Linked DNA regions of Homo sapiens. The protein of the gene in region 1 purifies or fractionates together with the protein of each later gene. This does not show direct contact. Each region holds a gene or a part of one and is shown in the gene's direction. Other genes may lie near its edges. The genes, in order: FAM234B, PEX11B, CKAP5, UBE3C, SLC25A51, HERC5 and PDS5B.

Region 1 (3,500 bases):
CCTGATGGTGGTGGTGGTGGTGGGGTACCTTGTTACATCCAGGAGAGGGTGGGAGCCAGGCTCCACATTCAGCCTTTGCTATATGAGTGGGTGGAGCTGGGCTGATAATTTTATCTGTTTGGTTGGAGTAGAGCAGTTATTATCTACAACTTTCCTGTCTTGCTGGACTGCACCTTTCCTGGGCTTTTGGCTAGGGAAGGCAGCCTTTTCTGGGGCTTTTTTTGTCTGTATCTGTGGTGTTTCTGGGTTGCTGGCTTTTCCAGCACCCTATCTGGGTATTATGAGGCCAAAAGAAAACCCAGGGGACTCATCACCTTGTCATTCCTTGGGTCTTGCAGTCCCTAGCTGGTCTGCTTCCTTCTCTCTGCCTTTTAGAGTTGTCTTATGTTTGTTTTATGTACAGTGTCCAGGGCTTTTCCATGCACTTAGCAGGGGGAGTAGGGAGAGGTGTGTCTACTATACCTAGTCGAGGAACTGGAGTCTGCCTGGTGTTTATAGAGCTACTGGCAACAGAGAACTGGTTTGTGGTAACTTGCTCAGGACCTTTTTGGTTTTTTATGTGTATAACAGGTGGGGACCTGTCTCCATTGGAATTGGCTGATGTGAATGGAGATGGCCTGCGTGATGTGCTTCTCTCCTTTGTGATGTCAAGGAACGGGAGTGCAGTAGGTAAGAGACGTGTTTTTTTCAAGGCTGCTACAGGGGCACTGTCAGCTAGGAGAAAACATCAGAGCTGTGTCCCAAGTGGTACTGCAGAGAAGGATCTGCAGTGAACAGAAAGTTACCATGGTTCTGGCATACATGAAAACCCTCATCAGAAAGCTTCCACATATAAATAAAGCTCAGTCTAAGAAATCGGAGGGAGTTAGAGCTGGAAGGAATTTTTAGTGGTGACCAGGCCAGTGAAGAAACTGTGATGCAGAGAGGAAGTGACTTGTCCACACACTTTGCAACGAACAGTGTTAGTCCTCGGGTTCCTTGGGTTTTCTCCTGGTTTTCCATTGCCTCTTAGATTATAGTGAACATTGACTTTATGCTACCCTCCTATCCCTGGAAGAAAACTTTTGTTCATAGACTTATACATCTTTACACAAATACCTCTTGGCCGGGTGTTTTCCTTTCCCCCTTCAGTTTACACTTGTAGACCTGCTGTCCATCCTGCTCTCTGCATGGGGAAGCTGAGCTGTATGGATGGTATCAACAGGCTTCCTTGCCTGCTGGTCTCCTTTCAATGGGGAGCACAGCTCAGGAATGGGAGGGGAGTAAGAGTGTGAGGGGAGGTATTCACTCCCCTGGCTCCCTCCCCGCCGGGGTCACTGCAGAATGGCTGCTACAGCCTTGACCCTGGGTCACAGCTCGTTTCAAGGTGGCCCTCCTATAGGACTTTCCTTTTCTGGATTCCAGTAATTGCGTCCTCTCCTTGTGTCTTTGTTGGGGAGCCTAACAGTTCTGAGGGTCTGCACTATCACTTGTGGTGTTTCTACATGCTGGCCACATCTTTGTGAATAGTCTCCTTAAGAAACCGTCCACAACTTACCCTCATTTAGGGTGCTGTTTCTGGGATCCCAGCTTTTACACATGTCAGCTGTAGAAAAAGAAAAAATGCGTTCTGATTTCAGCCTAAGTACACAAGGCTTTTGGTTGATCCTGCAGCCTCCACTACAGTGGAGTCAAACTGCAGCCTGTGAGCTGATGCAGGGACCTAGTTTGATGCTGAGGATGCCCTAGTGACTGCTTTTAAGTCGTCTAGGCCTTGGAATACATGTCTAGGTGTGTTTTAGAGAATTCTAAACCACATCTCTTACATTAGTAGGAGTGGCTTTCTGAGGCCCACATGAGATGTGGAAGCAATCTGGGTGGAGATCTGCTGTAGAGAGCATCTCCAGCCTAGGAGTAGATTTCCGTGCAATCAAAACTTGATTACACTTTTCCTGCCCGTGACTTCTGAAGTAAAAATCTTCCCCATCTACTTAGATTTAGAGATGTTTTTAGTCATTTGGTATCTTACGTAGTTTGCTTCATACCAAGACTCATAATGGCAAGGCCATGGGTTTGGACACAATATGGACCAGGCTGATTTGGCCACAGACTGTACAAATAAGGATATAGCGAACATATGGTGCTTTCTATGTGTTAATACACCATTGTCAGCACATAACGTATGAAGGAATTTATCCTTCCACACAGTCCTGTGAAGTAGACCCATTATTATCCCCCTTTTGCACATGAGGAAGGTGAGACGTTGTGAGGTTAAAGAACTTGCCCAGTCCTACTGCTGGTAAATGATAGAGCTGGGGATTCGGATCCAAGGAGTCTGGCTCTGGAGTTCATGTCCTTGACCCTCATGCCAAGCTGCTGTGCCCATAACCCACAAAGCTTTGTGCTACTGGACACAGAGGGATTGAGTTTTTTGTCTATTCACTTGTTCCTTCATTCAGCAACTGTGTGTTGATACTAACTGTGCGGCAGCCACTCTGCACCTTCTCTAGAGTTCTGATGGTTACACACAGACTGCCGAACAAGAGGAGCCTGGCTTTGGCCTCGAGAAGTCATAGTCTAGCAGGAAGGGGTAATCCATCACCATCTGGGAAAAGACGAGTCAGAGCATTGTAGGATGGAGTAGGGTCCTCCAGTAGGAAGAACCACACAGGATAGGGATCCTAGCACCTTTGAGAAGCCTGGAAGTTACCATATACCACCTCTGTTTGTCATATATATCTTCTGGCAACAGGGTCTGAAACAGCCAGCCATTGTTTGTCACTTGTTTTTAGGTTGTATATTCAATTAGTCGTGCTGAGGAATAGGTAGAAGGAAGCTCTAAAAGTTTTGTTTCCTTATCCATATTAGTTGTTGCTGAAAGTGGGAACTGTATGAAATGAGTCACGTGTCCCTATCCTGAGAGTGAATGTGAAACTGACAAGGGAGAAAGTTCTGAGTCTGATGTAGTAATTAAGTGACATAAAGGCTTATTTACTAAGGATCATGGCTACTCTAATCCCTTACCAGCTGTACTTGGATCTAGGTATTAGGTCTTCCCAAATATTTTTTCCTGACTGGGACCAAATCAATTGATTCCAGAGAACTCTAGACTAGCAAGACCCACTCATCATTGCTATATGTAATCTTCAAGTTTATTTTTTCAAAAAAGAAAATATTTTTCTGCTCTCAGGAAGCATTTATTAGTGATGATTAGAATTCAGGTATTTTGCTCCCCGCGCTGCACACGTTCTGGATCAGTCTCATGTTTCCGAGCATATCTTTTCCTCCTGGTTTTTTGTTCTTAACTACTTTTTCGCATTCTTGATTTTGCTCCTGTCTCTTATTAGGCAAACAGTCGGTTGCTGTAGGTACAGAGATTAGTGAGACAGTCTTTCTCCTTAAGGATATCACCATTTAGTTGGGGCCGAGGTGGCAGACATGTAAAGAGTAGTGTTGGGAAAGGTGCAGAAGTGGAGATGCATTCGACAGTGTAGAGGAGGCCACAGCTCTTGTCTTACATG
Region 2 (2,434 bases), on another chromosome or scaffold:
CAGATTTCAAATATACAATACAGTATTGTTAACTATAGTCACAATGTAGTACATTAGATCTCCAGAACTTACTCATCTTGCATAACTGAAACTTATACGCTTTGACCAGTATCTTCCCATTTCCCTCACTCCCCAACCCCTGGCAACCCCCATTCTATTCTGTGCCCCTATGAGTTAGCCTTTTTTTTTTTTTTTTGAGACAGAGTCTTGCTTTGTTGCCCAGGCCGGAGTGCAGTGGTGAGATCTCGGCTCACTGCAACCTCTGCTTCCTGGGTTCAAGCAATTCTCATGCCTCAGCCTCCCAAGTAGCTGGGATTACAGGTGCTGGCCACCACAACTGGCCAATTTTTGTATTTTTAGTAGGGACGGGGTTTCACCATGTTGGCCAGGCTGGTCTTAAACTCCTGACCTCAGGTGATCCACCTGCCTTGGCCTCCCAAAGTGCTGGGATTACAGGCATGAGCCACCACGCCCGGCCTTATTTTAGCTTCCACCTATAAGTGAGATTATGCAGTATTTGTCTTTCTGTGTCTGGCTTATTTTGCTTAGCATAGTGTCCTCGATGGAGGACATTTCTAATAGGGGTAATAGCATTCACTTTACTTCTGATCTAATGTGTAATCTCTTTGCTACAGGAAAAGAAAATGTTAAAATGTGATGTTGGATATGTTAAGTAGGTATACATGCCCTTACTGACCCTTTTGCTCTGTGTATCAGGTACTATTTGTTTTCCCTCATCATGAATTTGAGCCGTGATGCTTATGAGATTCGCCTACTGATGGAGCAAGAGTCTTCTGCTTGTAGCCGGCGACTGAAAGGTTCTGGAGGAGGAGTCCCAGGAGGAAGTGAAACTGGGGGACTTGGGGGACCAGGGACTCCAGGAGGAGGTCTGCCCCAACTGGCTCTGAAACTTCGGCTGCAAGTCCTGCTCCTGGCTCGAGTCCTTAGAGGTCATCCCCCACTTCTGCTAGACGTGGTCAGAAATGCCTGTGATCTCTTCATTCCTCTGGACAAACTAGGCCTCTGGCGCTGTGGCCCTGGGATTGTGGGGCTTTGTGGCCTCGTGTCCTCCATCCTGTCTATTCTCACCCTAATCTATCCCTGGCTACGACTCAAGCCCTGACCTTCCGGTACAGGATAAGGAGGGGACCTGAATTGGTGAGATGGAATCTTAGATCGTCCCCCATGTGCCAGCCTCATTCGAATTCTACTCTTTGGTTAAAGTTAGAAATTCAGAGATTTAGGGGTGGAGGAAGAGCTTTGGGGAAGATGAGGTAAGGAAAGATGACTCGTGAAGTTAATAGGATGTCTCTAATTTCTAGATGTGCCTGAGCTTCTGTTCTTTTCCTCTTTCTTTGTGTCTCTCTTGAATATATTTACTTTGTGTCTCTTAACTCTGTTTAAGGTTCTGTGTCTATGCATCTCTCTCTTTCTTTTTTCAACCTTCTCATTCTCCTATCCAGGGATTTAATCAGCAGAATTACTTTTTGATAGGGGAGGTATAAGGTTTGGCCTGTAAGGTTCTAACTGCCTTCTTTTTTCTCACAGAGGTGGCTTATGGCAGATTTTTCCTCCTTCAAACTCCAAACATAATTTTTAAGACTATGTGCCAGTGGACTCTTCCCTTATATCTCTGCACCACAAGTTGTTGGATGTTTCCTCTTCCTCCCTTATGTCTACCTCACCAACCTCGCTCATCATTTGGCCCTTATCCTTCCTTGTACACCTACCTTCAGATTTCTGCTTACACTTTGATTTCAGAGCTTTATTCCCCAGTCTGTTCTTACTCCTTTGTCGCTTATCCAGAATGATGCTATGTGTAGCATCTTGCTGTAAATCCTGTACAATGATTCTGTGTAAATAGCTGTGGCCTATGCCAATAATGAAGAGCAAGCCTTTCAGGTAAGCAAATTAAAGTTCAGTTTGCTCATCGACATTTGGTCTGGTCCCTCATTTTTTGGTAATTTGAGGCCCCTATTCCTGTCACTGTGGTTTGGGTTTTTCTCGGGATTAGCCACTAACATCACCCACATTATTTTTCTTGAGCACCTACAGTATGTAAAGCAACATACTTAGTGGGCATCCAAAAATCTAAGAAGCTCCACACTCCCAACTTTAAGAAGTTTATAACCTAGCTGAGGAGTTGGGGTGGCAGAGGAGTGGTCTAATACTAAAGTTATTGTCCTGGCTCCACAAAGCACATCTCATACCAGTTCAGATATAATCCCTCTAAGAAGCAGAATGCCATATGACAGCATAGGCTAAGAGCCAAGGACAGAACCAAGTGGAGTGGGGCTGGTAAGGATTTGGAGCTGTGTCTTCACAAGTTGAGACTCCCCTGGGTGGGTAGGGAAATGATACCACTGCTATCAGCTCTTTCATTTTCCATATTCCAGGTTGAGATAAATAAGGTTAGGAAGTGAATCTATCGGCC
Region 3 (3,500 bases), on another chromosome or scaffold:
ATCTTTTTAAACTTACGAAGCAGTTTCATATAAATGATCTCATATTTGTTTGGTCTGAATGACATTAGTGTTTATACTAGAAAGAAATTGTGGCCAACTAGAAATAGTGGCCATGCTACATTTATAATAATAATGATTCCAGTAATGAAATTTGAATTTTACCTTAAATATGTGTACTATTGTTTACTATTTTCTTTCTATCTGATATGAAGATTTTAAATCTTGGATTATTTTTTAAAACCACTTTAGTGACTTAAATATTTAAAGCATTTCTTGTAACTTTCTCTAGAAGCAAGTTCAAAAGGTCTTCAGTTACACTGTTATGATAAGAGATACATTTAAATATCAATGGAAAGAAACAGAAAAGCTTTCAAACTAAGTGTTTGGAAATGTGTAAATGCCATTCAAGATGTCATTAATGGCTGAGGTGGGTGGATCACTTGAGGTCAGGAGCTCGAGACCAGCCTGGACAACATGGTGAAACCCTGTCTCTACTAAAAATACAAAAATTAGCCAGGGGTGGTGGTGGGCGCCTTTGGTCCCACCTACTGAGGAGGCTGAGTCAGGAGAATCACTTGAACCTAGGAGGTGGAGATTGCAGTGAGCTGAGATCACGCCACTGCACTCCAGCCTGGGCGACAGAGTGAGACTCCGTCTCAAAAAAAAAAAAAAAAAAAAAAAGATGTCATTAATATGGAAAGCTATAAATAGTGTTGAAGATTTCAAGAAAACAAAAACAAAAAGTTTGTGACCTAGACTAATGATCAGTAATAGCAGTTTTTCCAACTACATAACATGCCAGTCCAAGAACTAACCAACAGTTACTTAAGAATATTCTCAGAAAAATTTCTAGAGAACCTGTTCAAAAACATATACAAGATTCTGTGATGCATGTTTTTTTCATGTGAAATATCACGTAGAAAGATATCTCTGTTTTCTACAGTGCCCTTTTACTGGGCAGCAGCATCATATTCTTAAGGAGAAGTGGCCAAGCTAATCAGTATTCCCTGAACCTTGGTTGTAGAGTGCACAAGGGAAGAAGATGCCAAGCAAAACCAGCTTAAAGGAGGATGAAGACAAATCCGGGCCTATTTTTATTGTTGTTCCAAATGGAAAAGAGCAAAGGATGAAAGATGAAAAAGGATTGAAGGTAAGGAAGGATTAAGAATCGTCAGGAGATTTTTGCTTGTATTGTTATTCAAGAATAGTTTTGCTGTCTGAATTCATGTTATTGTTTAATATCTAGGAATTAAGTGTTTCTTTTGCTTATAAATTATATTATTTAGTTTATGGGAGCATTAATTCCTACAAAAGAAACTATAGAATAGAGTTATTGCCTATTTTTCCCTGTAAATAGAAATAAATGATTTAGTAGCTTTTTTGGTATCTTCATTGATTTTTTTTTTTAATTAATTGGATGTATAAGCTTCTTCATTAATCCTTCTTTTTAAGACCTTACAAGGCAGACTTTGTGACTGTATAAATGGCTAGTTCAGTCATTTATGTTACTTTGATTTCATTAGATACTTAAATTTGTTTTCAAAATACATAATCTTTTTTAAAAATTATATGCAGTACAGAAAGTGCAAAGTATAGTAAGAAAAGCATGTCTCTGTTCCAGTATCCCTCCACAGGGAGGATATTAGTCCTCATTTTTTCAATGTATTACTCCAGAAATATTTTATACCTCTACTATCATATGTATATTTTTATATAGCCCTCCTTTTATACAGATGGCATATACAGACATGCCGTACTGTTTGTTCTGTATCTCACTATTTTCTTTTAATGATGTTTGAAATATCTGAAAGATCATTCGTATCTGTGTATATATGTGTGTATCACTGTTTGTATTGGTGCATTGTATGTATGTACCTTTCTTTATCCTTCGCCCACTATGTTGGACATTTAGGTTGTTTCTGGTCTTTCACTATTACAAACACTGCTGCTGTGAATATCTTTGAATGTAGGTCTTTGTACACATATGTGAGTGTATCTATATTAAACTCCTAGAATGATGATATGCATAATTTTGATAGATATTTCAAATTTTCTCTCTATCAAAGATGTGGCAGCAGTGTCCACCATGTTATATAGTTATATGTAGGATTAATTTTTTTTTTTTCTTTAGTAAGAATTGCAAGGCCAGGCACAGTGGCTCATGCCTGTCATCCCAACAATTTGGGAGGCTAAGGCAGGCAAATTGCCTGAGCCCAGGAATTCAAAACCAGCCTGGACAACATATTGAGACTTCATCTCTACGAAAAAAATTTTTTAATTAGCTGGGCATAGTGGTGCATGTCTGTAGTCCCAGCTACTTGGGGGGCTAAGGCAGAAGAATCACTTGAGCCTGGGAGGTTAATGCTACAGTGATCTATGATCATGCCACTGCACTCTGCCATGCCCAGGCAACAGGTGAGACTCTGTCTCAAAAACAAACAATTCCAAAAATTTTTATTCCTAGAAGATTTTCAGAGTTGTTAAGCTTCAAGAAGTATGACACCTTGAAATTTGCATTCATATTTAATTACAAATGAATATTGTTGAATTTTTAAATATTTTATTGTTCCTGCAGCTGCATTATATAAGGCTCTCTACCTCATTTCAGTTGAACACCCTGTAGCCCCTTTTCACCGTTTGTTTTTTCCAGGTGCTAAAGTGGAATTTTACTACCCCACGGGATGAATACATTGAGCAACTAAAGACTCAAATGTCTAGCTGTGTGGCTAAATGGTTACAAGATGAGATGTTTCACTCAGACTTTCAGCATCATAACAAAGCCCTTGCTGTTATGGTTGATGTAAGTCTGCAATAGATAAATATACATGTATTTCAGACATGTAAAAATACCGAGCCCTATGAAATAATCTGAAGTTTGCATGACTTGGAAGTAGAATATACTATGTTCTCTATTTTTAGAGCTGTCTTGTTATTTGGTAGAATAAATGAATGTGTGTGTATATTTTTTAGGTCTTAATTGAAGGCTTAAAAATCTGTCATTTTCTTTTTGGGCTCCAATAAAATTTAAAAGACACTTGCCTAGTAGAATTAAGATTTTGATTATTCTTATTTGTGGGAGTTTTGTTTTGTTTTATTTTAAGCACTTGGAGAGTGAAAAAGAAGGAGTTATTGGTTGCCTGGATCTTATCTTAAAGTGGCTTACCCTGAGGTTTTTTGACACCAATACAAGCGTCCTGATGAAAGCACTAGAATATTTAAAATTGCTCTTCACCTTGCTAAGTGAAGAAGAATATCATCTTACTGAGAATGAAGCATCTTCCTTCATCCCCTATCTTGTCGTCAAGGTAATGTGGTGTTCTCTCTCTGGGAGACTGCTTAAGTTCCCAGCTGACCTCAGTTTCTGTACTTTTATTTCCTCTCCCTTTTTTACTGATTATATCACGGTACCTTCCCTACTTATCCCTATTTCCCTATTCTTTCAAAACATAGTAATGCATGGGAGAATCATTGCTACTTAGGAAATGCCTCACTTAATCATT
Region 4 (3,500 bases), on another chromosome or scaffold:
GTTCGTGCATGGCCACTTGTGCTGCGTGAGCGTCGTAGGTTTAGGGGAACAGAAGTAGAGGGATTTACATGAGCTTTTAAAATCCCAAATAGACTGGCCAGGTGCGGTGGCTCACACCTGTAATCCCAGCACTTTGGGAGGCCAAGGCGGGTGGATCCCCTGAGGCCAGGAGTTCAAGACGAACCTGACCAACATGATGAAACCCCGCCTCTACTAAATACAAAAAAAAAATCAGCCGGGCATGGTGGTGCATGCCTGTAGTCCCAGCTACTTGGGAGGCTGAGGCAGGAGAATGGCTTGAACCCGGAAGGTGGAGGTTGCAGTGAACCAAGATTGCACCATTGCACTCCAGCCTGGGCAACAAGAGCAAAACTCTGTCTGAAAAAAAAAAAAAAAAAAAAAAAAAAAAAAAAATCCCAAATAGACTAAAAGGGAAAATCCTACCCCAGTCAAGACCCCGCACAATCATAATTGAGTTATACCGTGGAAAACACTTTGAGCATCCATGAGACGGTCTTACTGTTTTTTTTATTTTTCTCAATGTTCTAACATATGTGAAATTTAATTGATTTTTCCATGATAAGTGTTTTTGAAGTTGTTATATGTTAGACATCCAGTTTGGAAAAATCATCTTAATATTTAGGCTTTCCGGTTAGCTTAGTATGCCTGGATTTGCCAGGGCTGCAGAATTAATGTAGACTTAAAGGAAGAGAATGTCTTTCAGTTGAAGTACTATAAATAGCAAAGGCAGGCAGGCATAATTTTAAAGTTATGAAACTCCTTAGTGCCAGATTATTGGAGAAGAATAACATCTGCTAAAGCTAATTAAAGTTTAATATGTTTAATAAATGTGATTGTTACAGACAAAAAATCATTAAAGTGCTGTAGAAAATTGTTAAGTTACCATCAGGCCACATAATAAATTAATGATTTTTCTCACTCTGAATTAATGCAAATTCCCGTTGTACTGTATTTAATTATGCACAAAATGGTGCCCTTGACTCAGATTTCAGTGAAGAACTTCATTTTTTTACTTTTAAGTCTCCAAGTAGGAAATTCAATTAGCGTTATGAAAGAAACACTAAAATGTGGCATTTAATTGCAAAATATATTTTAAGCTTTTCATTTATCCAGTGACTTTGCCAGCAGTCACTGACCCCTTCATTCAGAGATCCTTTTCTGTTTCAAAAATGCAATGCTTCCTTTTTAGTATATTCAAGCATTTGTGAAAATTATTGCCCTCATGTACTCAGAATGCTGAATAATAAGTGTAATAAATGTTATTTCTGGTTCTCCTTTGGTTCTCATTCTAACATTTTTATGAGAGATTTAAAGGAGCAAATAAACTATAATTAGAAAAAAAAAGACAATGGATTTTAGCACATATTATATGCCACATATATATTTTTTAATGAAGTTTACATTTAACAGTAAAGAGACCTACAAAGATCAGTAATAAGAATCATGTAAGTCTCTTCATAGGCTTTTTTTTTTTTTTTTTTTTTTTTTTTGAGATAGAGTTTCGCTCCTGTTGCCCAGGCTGGAGTACAATGGCCCATCTCAGCTCGCTGCAACCTCTGCCTCCTGGGTTCAAGTGATTCTCCTGCCGCAGCCTCCCGAGTAGGTGGGATTACAGGCACCTACCACCACCCCCAGCTAATTTTTTTGCATTTTTAGTAGAGGCAGGATTTCACCATGTTGGCCAGGCTGGTCTCGAACTCCTGACCTCCGGTGATCCACCCACCTCAGCCTCCCAAAGTGCTGGGATTACAGGCATGAGCCACCGCGCCCATCCTCTTCATAGCATTTTGTGGGCTGTGCTCTTACTAGTTTTACCCTTAACATAAATTATATGCTAAACTCAACATATAATTGAAACAAAATCCAACTGAAATGTGGGTGTGGCCAGTTGGGTGCCTGTTGTGCTTTGTGACAGCTTCAGTGCTTCCAAAGGTTCCTGCAGAATGGGACATTGCTCTAGTTTGATTCACATTTGACTACAATGGTTAGAAGGTAATTACCTTTTCTATTTTTTAAATTTTTTTGAACATAAACTCAAGATTGTATTGTCTTCATAATAAAACAAAAGATGACACTTAGAATTGGATGTCTTGGCCCTTCCTCCTCTTCTGTCCTCCCAGTTCAGAATGCTCACATCTCTTTATATCCAGCATCCTCTTACATCTGCACCTATGCTCAACGCACTCAAGCCTCAGCACAAGCTTCTTCGTAGTTCTAGCCTTTTCCCGGAAAATCAGCTTAGTCTGCCCACCGTAGCCGCTATGCTTCGTGTCCTAACACCACCTTCCCCGGGCACCTGTCCTAACGCCACCTTCCCAGGCACCTGTCGTAACGCCACCTTCCCCGGGCGCCTGTCCTAACGCCACCTTCCCGGGCATACAGAGAATCCGTGCCCTTTTGTGCCGTGTCGCTTTGTGGGCTTGCCACACTTACAGAAAGTCGAACGGGGGCCGGGTGTGGTGGCTCACGCACTTTGGGAGGCTGAGGCGGGCGGATCACCTGAGTTCAGGAGTTCTCGACCAGCCTGGCCAACATGGCGAAACCCCATCTCTACTAAAAATACAAAAATTAGCTAGGTGTGATGATGGGCACATATAGTCCCAGCTACTCGGGAGGTTGAGGCAAGAGAATTGCTTGAACCTGGGAGGCAGAGGTTGCAGTGAGCCGAGATTGTGCCATTGTACACCAGCCTTGTTGAGAGAGCAAGACGCCAACTCAAAAAAAAAAAAAAAAGTCTAGCAAGTATTAGGAACATTCACTTTGTGGGAGCGCTGTTGGCACCGAAAGCACTTTTTTTATATTGGATTTTTTTTTTTTTTTTTTACCTTTCAGTAAAAGTAATGTTTTCATTATAGAAAATTGGAAATTGTGATCAAGTATAAGAAACCTATATTTCCTCCCATTCTAACCATTATTTTTTTATGTTTCCTTCCTTTAATTAGTATGTGTTTTATCTACCTACATGAGTGTGTGTTAATGTAGATATGCATAATTTTTTCTGTTTTTGGTAGAGGTAGGGTCTTGCTCTGTTGCCCAGGCTGTCAGAAACTCCTGGCCTTGAGTGATCTCCCACACCAGCCTCCCAAAGCACTGGTACTACAGGTGTGAGCCAACATGCTCGGCCTGTTACACACACACACACCTGGTATTACAGGTGTGAGCCAACATGCTCAGCCTGTTACGTGCACACACACACACCTGGTATTACAGGTGTGAGCCAACATGTTCGGCCTGTTAAGCACAGAGACACACACCTGGTATTACAGGGGTGCGCCAACATGCTCGGCCTGTTACACACACACACACACACACCTGGTACTACAGGTGTAAGCCAACATGCTTGGCCTGTTACACACACACACACACACACACCTGGTATTACAGGTGTGAGCCAACATGCTCGGCCTGTTACACACACACACCTGGTACTACAGGTGTGAGTCAACATGCTCGGCCTGTTACACACACACACACACACC
Region 5 (3,500 bases), on another chromosome or scaffold:
TGGGAGGCCAAGGCTGGCAGATGATGTGAGCCCAAGGAGTTTGAGACCAGCCTGGGCAACGTAGAGAAACCCTGTCTCTACAAAACATACAAAAATTAGCTGGGCTTGGTGGTGCGGGCCTGTGGTCCCAGGTACTCAGATGGCTGAGGTGGAAGGATTGCTTGAGCCCAGGAGGTCAAGGCTGCAGTAAGTGCAGTGAACTGCGAGGTAGCCACTGCATTCAGCCCAGGTGACAGAGCAAAACTCTGTCTCAAAAAAACAAAACAAAACTGAGAAATAGTAAGATTGGTAATTCACAAGCTGCTGCTTTGCTAGGAGTGGTAAGGTTATAAATTAGATAAACTGATAACCCTGCTCAAGAAAAAAGGGAACATAAGTACACAGGTTAGAAGTAATTTTTTAAAACAGCAAGTGTTGGATGGGTGCAGTGGCTTGTAAATCCCAGCACTTTGGGAGGCCAAGGCAGGAGTTCAAGACCAGCCTGGGCAACATAGCAAGGCCCCCTCTCTGCTAAAAAAATGTTTTTTAAAAGTTAGCCAAGCATGGTGGCATGCGCCTGTGGTCCTAGCTACTCAGGAGACTGAGGCCCCAGGGGTCCAGGCTGCAGTGAGCCATGATCGTACCACCGTACTCCAGTCTGGGTGACAGAACAAGACCCTGTCATTTTTTTTTTTTTTTCTGGATAGAGTCTTGCTGTGTCGCCCAGGCTGGAGTGCAGTGCTGTGATCTTGGTTTACTGCAACCTCTGCCTCCCGGGTTCAAGCAATTCTCCTGCCTCAGCCTCCCAGGTAGCTGGGACTACAGGTGCGTGCCACGATGCCTGGCTAAATTTTGGATTTTTCGTAGAGATGGGGTTTCACCGTGTTAGCCAGGATGGTCTCGATTTCCTGACCTCATTCATGATTCGCCTGCCTTGGCCTCCCAAAGTGATGGGATTACAGGCGTGAGCCACCACACCTGGCCAAGATCCTGTCTTTAAAAATAAAAATAGGCTGGGAGCAGTGGCTCATGCCTGTCATCCCAACACTTTGGGAGGCCAGGGTGGGAGGAACACTTGAGCCCAGGAGTTTGAGACCACCGTTGACAACATAGTGAGACCCTGTCTCTACAAAAAAAAAAAAAAAAAAAAAAAAAAAAAAGGCTATATAAATTAAACCAGAATTTTTTTTTTTTTAAGGAAATCCAGTTATCAAAATTGACTCAAGAAGAGAGAACCTAACAGAACAATAACAATGGAAGAAATTGGGAACATTATCACAAAGCTATCATCCTGCCAAACTCCAGGCTCAGATGTCACAGGTGAATGCAATTAAACTTCAAGGAACACATCATTTTGATAAGATTTAAATTGTTCTACAGTATGATGGGGGTGGGGGGGCGGGGAATCACATATTCTTTTTACAAAGCCAGTGGAACATTGACACTGGCACTTGATGTGAAGATAGTATTAAAACTGAAAACTTATCTGAGTGCCAAGGCTTATGCCCATAATCCCAACACTTTGGGAGGCTGAGGCAGGAGGATTGCTTGAGCCAAGGAGCTTCAGACCAGCCTGGGCAACACAGAGTGACCCTGTCTCTACAAAAAAGTGAAAAATTAGCCAGGCATGGTGGCGCACGTGTGTGGTCCCAGCTGGGAGAATTGCTTAAGTCTAGGAGCTTGAGGCTGCAGTGAGCCATGATTGTACCACTGCACTCCAGCCTGGGTGACAGAGTGAGACCCTGTCTTGTAAAAGAAGAAAAAAAAAATGACAACATGATCTGTTATGAACAGTAATATGAAATTTTAAAATATTAGTAAATGGAAGTTAGCAGTATGATGAAAGAATATTTCACCACGGCCAAGTAGCATTTATCCACATATTGCAAGAGTGAGTAATCACCAAGAAATATGCTAACATAATACACCAAATGAATAAGTCAGAAAAGATAGAAAAGAATAATAAAATAGCTTGCCCTTGTTGAGTTCCTACTGTACACTAGACTGCTGTCCTGGGCACTTTACATGTTGTTAGCTCAGTTAATTGAGCTAGTCTATGAGGTAGTTAATAGCCACGTTTTATAAAGAGAATAAGCTATAGAGTGACTTGTCAAAGGTCACACAGTACATGTGTGGTGGAGCTAGGATTTAAGTAGGTAATTAGTAGGTTCCAGAGGCTGTACTCTTAAATATTACACTGGCTGTCTCCAGTGTTTGTATGATCATCTCAGGAGCTTTCTAAAAGCATTTGACCAAAGTTTAAGATAGACTCTTGAGTTATTGGCGGTGGGAAGGTGTGGAGGTGATTGAACTTCAGTACAACAATAATAAATGTATATTTCCTTCCCATGTTTGAAAATTCTCTCAGTTTGACTTATCAGTTGACTAGAAAAATGAAATTCATTTTTATTTTATTTATTTATTTATTTTTGAGACAGAGTCTTGCTGTGTCGCCCAGGCTGCAGTGCAGTGGTACAATCTTGGCTCACTGCAACCTTGCCTCCTGGGTTCCGGCAATTCTCCTGCCTCAGCCTCCCAAGTAGCTGAGATGACAGGTGCATGCCACCATGCCCGGCTAATTTTTTTTTTTTTTGAGATGGAGTTTCACTCTTGTTGCCCAGGCTGGAGTGCAATGGCATAATCTCAACTCACTGCAACCTCCGCCTCCGAGGTTCAAGCAATTCTCCTGCCTCAGCCTCCCGAATAGCTAGGATTACAGGCATGCGCCACCACGCCTGGCTAATTTTGTATTTTTAGTAGAGACAGGATTTCTCCATGTTGGTCAGGCTGGTCTTGAACTCCTGACCTCAGGTGATCCACCCGTCTCAGCCTCCCAAAGTGCTGGGATTACAGGCGTGAGCCACCGCACCCGGCCACCCCCGGCTAATTTTTGTATTTTTAGTACAGATAGGGTTTTGCCATGTTGGCCAGGTTGGTCTTGAACTTCTGACCTCAAGTGATCTGCCTGCTTCGGCCTCCCAGAGTGCTGGGATTACAGGTGTAAACTACTGCTCCTGGCCTGGAATCCATTTTTAATGGGAAGCACAATTTCATAGTTAATAGTTGGGGGCAGGAGCTTAAGTTATAATTGCAGCTCCACTAATTCTTAGAATGAATATAGATTGAAGTCTTGGGGTTTTTGGCATGATTTGTGAGATGAAATTATGTGATAGCAGAAGGAAGGCCTCCTGCACTTCATGTTTACAGTAGAGTCCTACAGATGGGCAGGGGTAGATGATAAATAGGGAGGAGGGATACTTGAGTGGAATAAATCATATATGACTCAGCTGATCAGTGAACGTTTCTGTGTCTTGATGATTTGTTTCCCTGTGTAAACTTGAAAACTGCTAGGACCTGGATTATGAACACTCAGATGACAAGAACTTCCTGTTTAAAACCGAAAGCCAACTTAATGATAATCCCTAGGAGAGTTCCCACAGGTGTCAAGAAAAATATAAGAACTATAATTATATATATATGTAATTATATATAGGGATTATAATTATAATTTATTATAATCC
Region 6 (3,500 bases), on another chromosome or scaffold:
AGATGGACAACTGGGAAATGGTGGAACACGTGACCAGCTGATGCCGCTTCCAGTGAAAGTATCATCAAGTGAAGAACTCAAACTTGGTAAATTCTATAGGAACATAGGGTTTGGCATAGTATCTTTTTAGAGAAAATGATTTTTCTAACTAGGTAATGTGGCAAAGAAAGCAACATATGACTATGAAGGGAGTTTCTCTAAATACTGGTTTCATTTTTTACTGGTAAACAATTCAAGAGTCAGTCTAATTTACTGAGGCAAAATAATTATTCTATATTACTCCTTCAGATTAGGATTAATGTGAATTTAAATGATAAAATAGACAATGGATTCAGAGGCATATGCAGCTCTCATTCCAGTTTGCAAGAGACTTACTAATTCTTGTAATTAGTTGTTTACTAATTCTTGTAATTGGCTGGTTGCCCTGGTTAAGTTGATCCACAGTCATATAAAACCCTCAGAATAATGAGCAATCAACGTATACCTGGCACTGAACTGTGCTCAGCACTTACTTGTGTTATCTCACCAATCCTTGTAACAGTTCCTGGGAGGTGTATTCTGTCACTCCTCTTTTACTGGAGGATAAAGAGACTTGGAGAGAAAAGGGTTAGCCACTTAATCATGGCCAGTAAGTGGTTTGTCTGGAGTTGAACCCGTGCCCTTTATGACCTCAGAGTCTGAGCTCTGAAACACTCCATTGTAGAAGCACCTTGGAGCATTTCTGTTACTTGTTTCTGAAAGCTTAGTGGTGACCTCAAGTAACAAAATCTACTCATTTCTTGTAGGAAAACGAACAGAGTTATTTCCTTAAGCAGCATGTATTATCTTTGATTCCTTATAACAGTTACATGGGCTTAAAGTACTTATATTCTTTATAGCCAGCAGTCATTGCTTAAATCTTGAAAACATGGTTTTTAGTAATGGGAGTTGAATTAAACTGATAACATTTAGCTAATCAAATATTTGCATTTTATATATAAATATTTGTATTATGTATATTAAACTGATGTCACATGTCCACCTTGTGAATTACCTATGTTTGCCAACTAGACTTTACTCCAAAGGATATGTATTTCAGCTGCTTAATTGGCAGAAAATGTACTAAGTTTTGTCTATTAAGAAGAAAAGATGACTACGTTTAAGAAGAATCTGAAGTTATTTAAATTGAACATGCATGTTTGTGCCAAATGACTTTCTAAAACTCTTACTCTTTGTGCATCCTTTCAGAAAGCCATACCTCAGAAAAGGAGTTAATAATGATTGCTGGAGGGAATCAAAGCATTTTGCTCTGGATAAAGAAAGAGGTAAAAATAGATCTCCAGGTGTTCTATAACCTGGTATTTTAAGCAAAACTAAGGGTTCTAGTATCCCAGTTTGGTGAATTCCAAAATCATCAGTTTACCAGGCTGACTTTTTGGGGGATAGCTGGACATTACTGATCCTTTATTGTCTAAACTACATCAGTATTTTCCCACAAAAATCAGCAGATTTTTCTCTGGTGAATGTCTAATCAGTGTGATTTCCATAGGCTATACTTACCTTTTGGGGGCTACTTGCCAATGATGTTTGGTCAGTATCCTTGCAAACAACAGAGTGACAGATTCTAAAAATGACTTTGCAGGCCAGTACTAAGAAAGACACCAAGGTTCATGGGCTTGCAAATAAAAAGTCCATAACTTCCCTGCCCTACTTCACCAAGTGAAATCGAGTTCCTCACACTTCTGCACACAGCTCTTTCAGGATCTTCCCTTCCCTTCAAGGCTGTCTGATGTTCAGTTTAATTTGATTGTATTTGTATAAAGTGCTGAGTGTTGAGTCCTCAAAGAAATTTACTTTCAGTCTAAGCCCCCTTGGACAAGAAAGTGGCAACCAGGCAAATGATTGATTACTTATTTGTTGAGTATCACTTTGTGATTGTCCCAGGGCTGTATTACACATATTTAAAAGTCAGTTTTACTCTCTAGAGTGTACCTAAAAGTTGGGTGCCTATCTCTGATGTGTCTAAATTATTGTATTTTACTTTCCTGTTTGTTTACAGAATTCATATGTTAATCTGAAGAGGACAATTCCTACTCTGAATGAAGGGACTGTAAAGAGATGGATTGCTGATGTGGAGACTAAACGGTGGCAGAGCACAAAAAGGTACACCCCACAGTCTGACTCTCTGCTTATATATCACTCTCAAGTATCATTTCCCAAACTGGTTCTGCACAGCAATATGAGATTTTGTAGTCAGGGTTTTCCAGAGAAACAAACTCATAGGATATGTGTGTATTTCTGTCTCTATCTTTATCTCTATCATGTCTGTCTGTCCATCTATGTATCTATGGAGGGGAGAGAGAGAGATTATTTTAAGGAATTGGCTTATGAGATTGTAGGGGCTGGCAAGTCCAAAATCTGTAGGGCAGGCCAGCAGGCTGGAGACTTGGGGAGGAGTTGATGTTGCAGCTCAAGTCTGAAGGCAATCTAAAAGCAGAATTTCCTCTTCTTTGGGTGACCTCAGCCTTTTCTCTTAAGGCCTTCAACTGGATGAGGCTCACTCACATTATGGAAGGTCCTTTCTTTTTATTCACTTGTTCAAGTGCTTTACTCAGTTTACCATTTTAAATGTTAATCTCATCTAAAAAAATACTTTCATAGAAACATCCAGAATAATATTTGACCAAATATCTTGGTACCATGGCCTAGCCAAGTTGACATATAAAACTAACCCATCACAACTAGCATGTAAGCGCCATGAGGACAGCTTTCTTTACTGTAGGGCTTCTCCAGGCCTCTGTTTATGTATATTGTGACTCTCTGGCCAGAAAATAGAGTCTATAGTGTTTCCCAGTCCCATTTGATCCTGGAACCATTAGTTTGTGTACCTGTTATTCTTAGCTGAACAATTTGTACCATTCTTCTCTAAACCATAGAACTCCTATAGGTTTACAGAACTCCTACCTATTCTTACAAACATCATCTTTTAGAAATATTTTTAGGTATGGCTTTCTAATTCTGGAAAATGATTGTACAAAGTAGTTGCACAAAATAGTTGCATCATAATTTGCAGAGCATAAATAATTAAGAACTGTACAACTACTTCTAAGATGAAACTGAGCATACTCCTTCCCCCATTTAATTTCTGGTAATTTATTTCTACTTCAGTGGAATAGAAATAAATAGGACTTGCATAGTTGGTGGGGTGGGAGTATTTTGTTTGTTCAAGAAAGTTCTGACCATAAATCAAGCCTTTCCTCTTTATTTGAGGCTTCTCTGAGTATGTATAAACTTTTTTATTTCCCATGTTTGCCACTGAAATTTTGAGATTTACCAAACAGAATGGACTTTTAGAAGCCAAGCCAAGGTAATATGCATACAGATAGGAGACAAATGGAGAGGTTGGAAGGATAGTTATAAGATGTGGTATTTATCATGTCTCATGCTGTAAAGAAAGAGGCTGTATGTATGTATACCATGTGATTTGGTTTAACCAGTGTCTTATTACTAATATAGGGAAA
Region 7 (3,500 bases), on another chromosome or scaffold:
TTATTCTTGTTCAAAACATATAAAATAAAGGAAGCACTACAAATCATTGATTCTGAAATGGTTGGATGTGTCTTTGGGAGTGGAAAATCCAGTTTAGAATCTCATCTCACATTCTGTTCTAAAACAATACACAATAATGTCTTAGTCAGCTCAAGCTGCCATTATAAAATACCAAATACCACAGACTGGGTAGCTTAAACAACAGAACTATATTTTCTTACAGTTCTGGAGGCTGGAAGTACAAGATCAAGGTGCCAGCAGATTTGGTTCCTGATGAGGGCTGTCTTCCTGGGTTACAGATGCCACCTTCTCCTGTGTCCTCACATGAGAGGTGTGGGGTGGGAGGAAGAAGAAAGGCACCCAAGCTCACTGATGTTTCCTCTTATAAGGACACTAATCTCATCATGAGGGTGCCACCTCATGACCTCATCTCAACGAAATACCTCCCAAAGGCCCCATCTCCAAATACTGTCACATTGGGATTAGAGCTTGAACATACAATTTTTTTCTTTGGTGGTGGGGGCCACAATTCAGTCCAAAGCAAGTAAGAAATAACACTTAAAGGACAGGTGCAATGACACCTGTAATCCCAGCACTTTGGGAGGCCGAGGCAGGCGGATCACCTGAGTTTAGGAGTTTGAAACCAGCCTGGCCAACACGGCAAAACCCCATCTCTGCTAAAAATACAAAAATTAGCCACGCATGGTGGCACATGCCTCTAGTCCCAGCTACTCGGGAGGCTGAGGCAAGAGAATCGCTTGAACCCGGGAGGCAGAGGTTGCAGTGAGCCAAGATTGACCCACTGCACTCCAGCCTGGGTGACAGAGCGAGACTCTGTCTCAAAAAAAAAAAAAAGAAAAAAAAAAAAAGCTGGGTGCAGTGGCTCATGCCTGTAATCCCAGCACTTTGGGAGGCCGAGGCGGGCGGATCACAAGGTCAGGAGATTGAGACCATCCTGGCTAACACGGTGAAACCCCGTCTCTACTAAAAAAATACAAAAAAAAAAAAAAAAAAAAAAATTAGCCAGGCGTGGTTGCAGACACCTGTAGTCCCAGCTACTCGGGAGAAGGCTGAGACAGGAGAATGGCGTGAACCTGGGAGGCGGAGCTTGCAGTGAGCAGAGATGGTGCCACTGCACTCCAGCCTGGGTGACAGAGTGAGACTCCATCTCAAAAATAATAAAAGATAATATTAATAATAAAGAAATAACACTTAAAAATAAGCATAGAGGCATACACAAAAGCATAGAGGAATATAGAGAAAACCCACTAACACCGCAGTAGTCAAAGTTGACAAAGGACACAATACGAAGGATGTAATTAGGCAGTTCACATACAGGAAGCTCAATTTAAAGTTAGAAAAAGTTACAGATAATTCGATAGTTTTTGTTGTTTTCAGTGATTTTTGAAAATATAAATTGCGCAGACTTTTGGAAATTAACTTTGTATTATAAGTGTTCATACATACAATTTATTCTTGGGTCTTTGGAGAATTTCTTCAGCCTTCACGCTGGTTCACATATAGATTCTCTGAATATAGACTAGGATTTTATTTTAAATGTGAAAGCCACTGGTTTTTTGTTGTTTCTGTTGTTAATCAGTTAGTTATACCTAGAAAGAAGCAGTATTTCTAATTCAGAAGTGTTTCCAAAATTTATAATAAATGATGAATATGTTTACCTTTTGTATCTTGCAACCTCCATTTGTAAAATAATAGTTCTTTTATGATGTTGTAAGCATGTCATATAGTTAATATTTTATGTCTTACGCACTATGTGGTAAAATTAGAATTACTTAAATTGACTATCCAAACAGATACTTTAGTATAGTTGTCATTTAGGACCAAGCACTGAATTTATAATGCTCTTTTTAATGAGATAGCTCTTCACTAAAATTTATAATTTAGTAAGATACTGATCTTGAGAGGTTTCCTTTTAAGACACTCTAGCTGAAAAGTAAGAGTGCAAATGTACCCTTTTATCCCAGATAAGTTTTTAAAATTAAAAACTATAATAAAAGCAAATAAATACAGTTCTGGTGTATTTAAGAGCTGTATATTTTAGGTACATATCTAGGACAACATTAGATAACAGATTTTTTTGTTTCATTCCTCAAAATATGTATACTCACAATTTCATAACCATAAATTGTGATTTTTTTTTTCCCCTAGTCTGAATTGGAGAAGCCTAGAGGCAGGAAAAAAACGCCCGTCACAGAACAGGAGGAGAAATTAGGTATGGATGACTTGACTAAGTTGGTACAGGAACAGAAACCTAAAGGCAGTCAGCGAAGTCGGAAAAGAGGCCATACGGCTTCAGAATCTGATGAACAGCAGTGGCCTGAGGAAAAGAGGCTCAAAGAAGATATATTAGAAAATGAAGATGAACAGAATAGTCCGCCAAAAAAGGGTAAAAGAGGCCGACCACCAAAACCTCTTGGTGGAGGTACACCAAAAGAAGAGCCAACAATGAAAACTTCTAAAAAAGGAAGCAAAAAAAAATCTGGACCTCCAGCACCAGAGGAGGAGGAAGAAGAAGAAAGACAAAGTGGAAATACGGAACAGAAGTCCAAAAGCAAACAGCACCGAGTGTCAAGGAGAGCACAGCAGAGGTAAGCATGTGTAACTCTAAACTGCATCTGTTTCGTTACTATATTATAAATCATAATTTGATGCTATCCACATTTGGGTCTTCCCCAAAGCAGAGCAGAATCTCCTGAATCTAGTGCAATTGAATCCACACAGTCCACACCACAGAAAGGACGAGGAAGACCATCAAAAACGCCATCACCATCACAACCAAAAAAAAATGTGTAAGTTGTAAATATTACATTTCAAACCAATTTCAAATTATTTTGCAAAAGTTCCTAAATTTGTAAACATACATATTGCTGTATTTAAATTCCATATATTTAGCCCCATTACACTAGGTAAGATAAAATTTTTATAAACTTACCTTAGTGATTGATATCTCAATAAACTATCTTGTACATTTTTACAGGTGCAGGCAAATCTTCATAAATGAATACCAAATAGTATATTATTTCCTATACAGACTTTATGATATCTAAAGAAATCATAAGGTATTTTTAAATAATCACCACACATTGACCAGGTTGCCTTGTCATTCCACACTACAATTTTTTTTTTAAATGTTTCTCATTAGCACCTTTTCCTTTAAAAAAAGGAAAATAGGTCTTATGCTTCTGCTTTTATTCTTTGAACTTGTAGTAGGAAAGTAACAGGTACCATTTTTTAAAAATTATATCCATAGAAATTAACACATGTTGGTCTCAAGTGTTTGATATCTTGATTTTGTTTGTTTTCTAACCCAGTTCATTTATCTACATCAACATGTATATAGTTTTAGATGTTCACACAAACACATTTATAAGAGAGGTACAGTAAGAATCTGTACCTCAAATTTTAGTGTCACCAGAGTATCACTGCTGTAATTTGCAGATCTGACAGTGTTTTTTCTCCTTAGTTATGTGAGTGGAAAT

What was found.
Region 2: the proteins of FAM234B (region 1) and PEX11B purify together in Homo sapiens (affinity purification with mass spectrometry; 2 studies listed by BioGRID and IntAct, with this or other methods). This does not show direct contact.
Region 3: the proteins of FAM234B (region 1) and CKAP5 purify together in Homo sapiens (affinity purification with mass spectrometry; 2 studies listed by BioGRID and IntAct, with this or other methods). This does not show direct contact.
Region 4: the proteins of FAM234B (region 1) and UBE3C purify together in Homo sapiens (affinity purification with mass spectrometry; 2 studies listed by BioGRID and IntAct, with this or other methods). This does not show direct contact.
Region 5: the proteins of FAM234B (region 1) and SLC25A51 purify together in Homo sapiens (affinity purification with mass spectrometry; 2 studies listed by BioGRID and IntAct, with this or other methods). This does not show direct contact.
Region 6: the proteins of FAM234B (region 1) and HERC5 purify together in Homo sapiens (affinity purification with mass spectrometry; 2 studies listed by BioGRID and IntAct, with this or other methods). This does not show direct contact.
Region 7: the proteins of FAM234B (region 1) and PDS5B purify together in Homo sapiens (affinity purification with mass spectrometry; 2 studies listed by BioGRID and IntAct, with this or other methods). This does not show direct contact.

Annotation. Positions count from the first base shown.
Region 1 is NC_000012.12:13,057,881-13,061,380, forward strand, and holds part of FAM234B (protein FAM234B), read left to right. Parts: intron 1-570; coding exon 571-669; intron 670-3,500.
Region 2 is NC_000001.11:145,910,850-145,913,283, reverse strand, and holds the end of PEX11B (peroxisomal membrane protein 11B), read left to right. Parts: intron 1-717; coding exon 718-1,123; 3' UTR 1,124-1,934; downstream 1,935-2,434. UniProt on the Homo sapiens protein: Involved in peroxisomal proliferation. May regulate peroxisome division by recruiting the dynamin-related GTPase DNM1L to the peroxisomal membrane. Promotes membrane protrusion and elongation on the peroxisomal surface.
Region 3 is NC_000011.10:46,762,781-46,766,280, reverse strand, and holds part of CKAP5 (cytoskeleton-associated protein 5), read left to right. Parts: intron 1-1,024; coding exon 1,025-1,150; intron 1,151-2,650; coding exon 2,651-2,800; intron 2,801-3,101; coding exon 3,102-3,305; intron 3,306-3,500. UniProt on the Homo sapiens protein: Binds to the plus end of microtubules and regulates microtubule dynamics and microtubule organization. Acts as a processive microtubule polymerase. Promotes cytoplasmic microtubule nucleation and elongation. Plays a major role in organizing spindle poles.
Region 4 is NC_000007.14:157,260,926-157,264,425, forward strand, and holds part of UBE3C (ubiquitin-protein ligase E3C), read left to right. Parts: intron 1-3,500. UniProt on the Homo sapiens protein: E3 ubiquitin-protein ligase that specifically catalyzes 'Lys-29'- and 'Lys-48'-linked polyubiquitin chains.
Region 5 is NC_000009.12:37,897,628-37,901,127, reverse strand, and holds part of SLC25A51 (mitochondrial nicotinamide adenine dinucleotide transporter SLC25A51), read left to right. Parts: intron 1-1,177; 5' UTR 1,178-1,299; intron 1,300-3,500. UniProt on the Homo sapiens protein: Mitochondrial membrane carrier protein that mediates the import of NAD(+) into mitochondria. Mitochondrial NAD(+) is required for glycolysis and mitochondrial respiration.
Region 6 is NC_000004.12:88,467,119-88,470,618, forward strand, and holds part of HERC5 (E3 ISG15--protein ligase HERC5), read left to right. Parts: coding exon 1-86; intron 87-512; exon of another isoform or gene 513-588; intron 589-1,227; coding exon 1,228-1,304; intron 1,305-2,038; coding exon 2,039-2,142; intron 2,143-3,495; coding exon 3,496-3,500.
Region 7 is NC_000013.11:32,767,952-32,771,451, forward strand, and holds part of PDS5B (sister chromatid cohesion protein PDS5 homolog B), read left to right. Parts: intron 1-2,169; coding exon 2,170-2,609; intron 2,610-2,699; coding exon of another isoform or gene 2,700-2,702; coding exon 2,703-2,810; intron 2,811-3,500. UniProt on the Homo sapiens protein: Regulator of sister chromatid cohesion in mitosis which may stabilize cohesin complex association with chromatin. May couple sister chromatid cohesion during mitosis to DNA replication.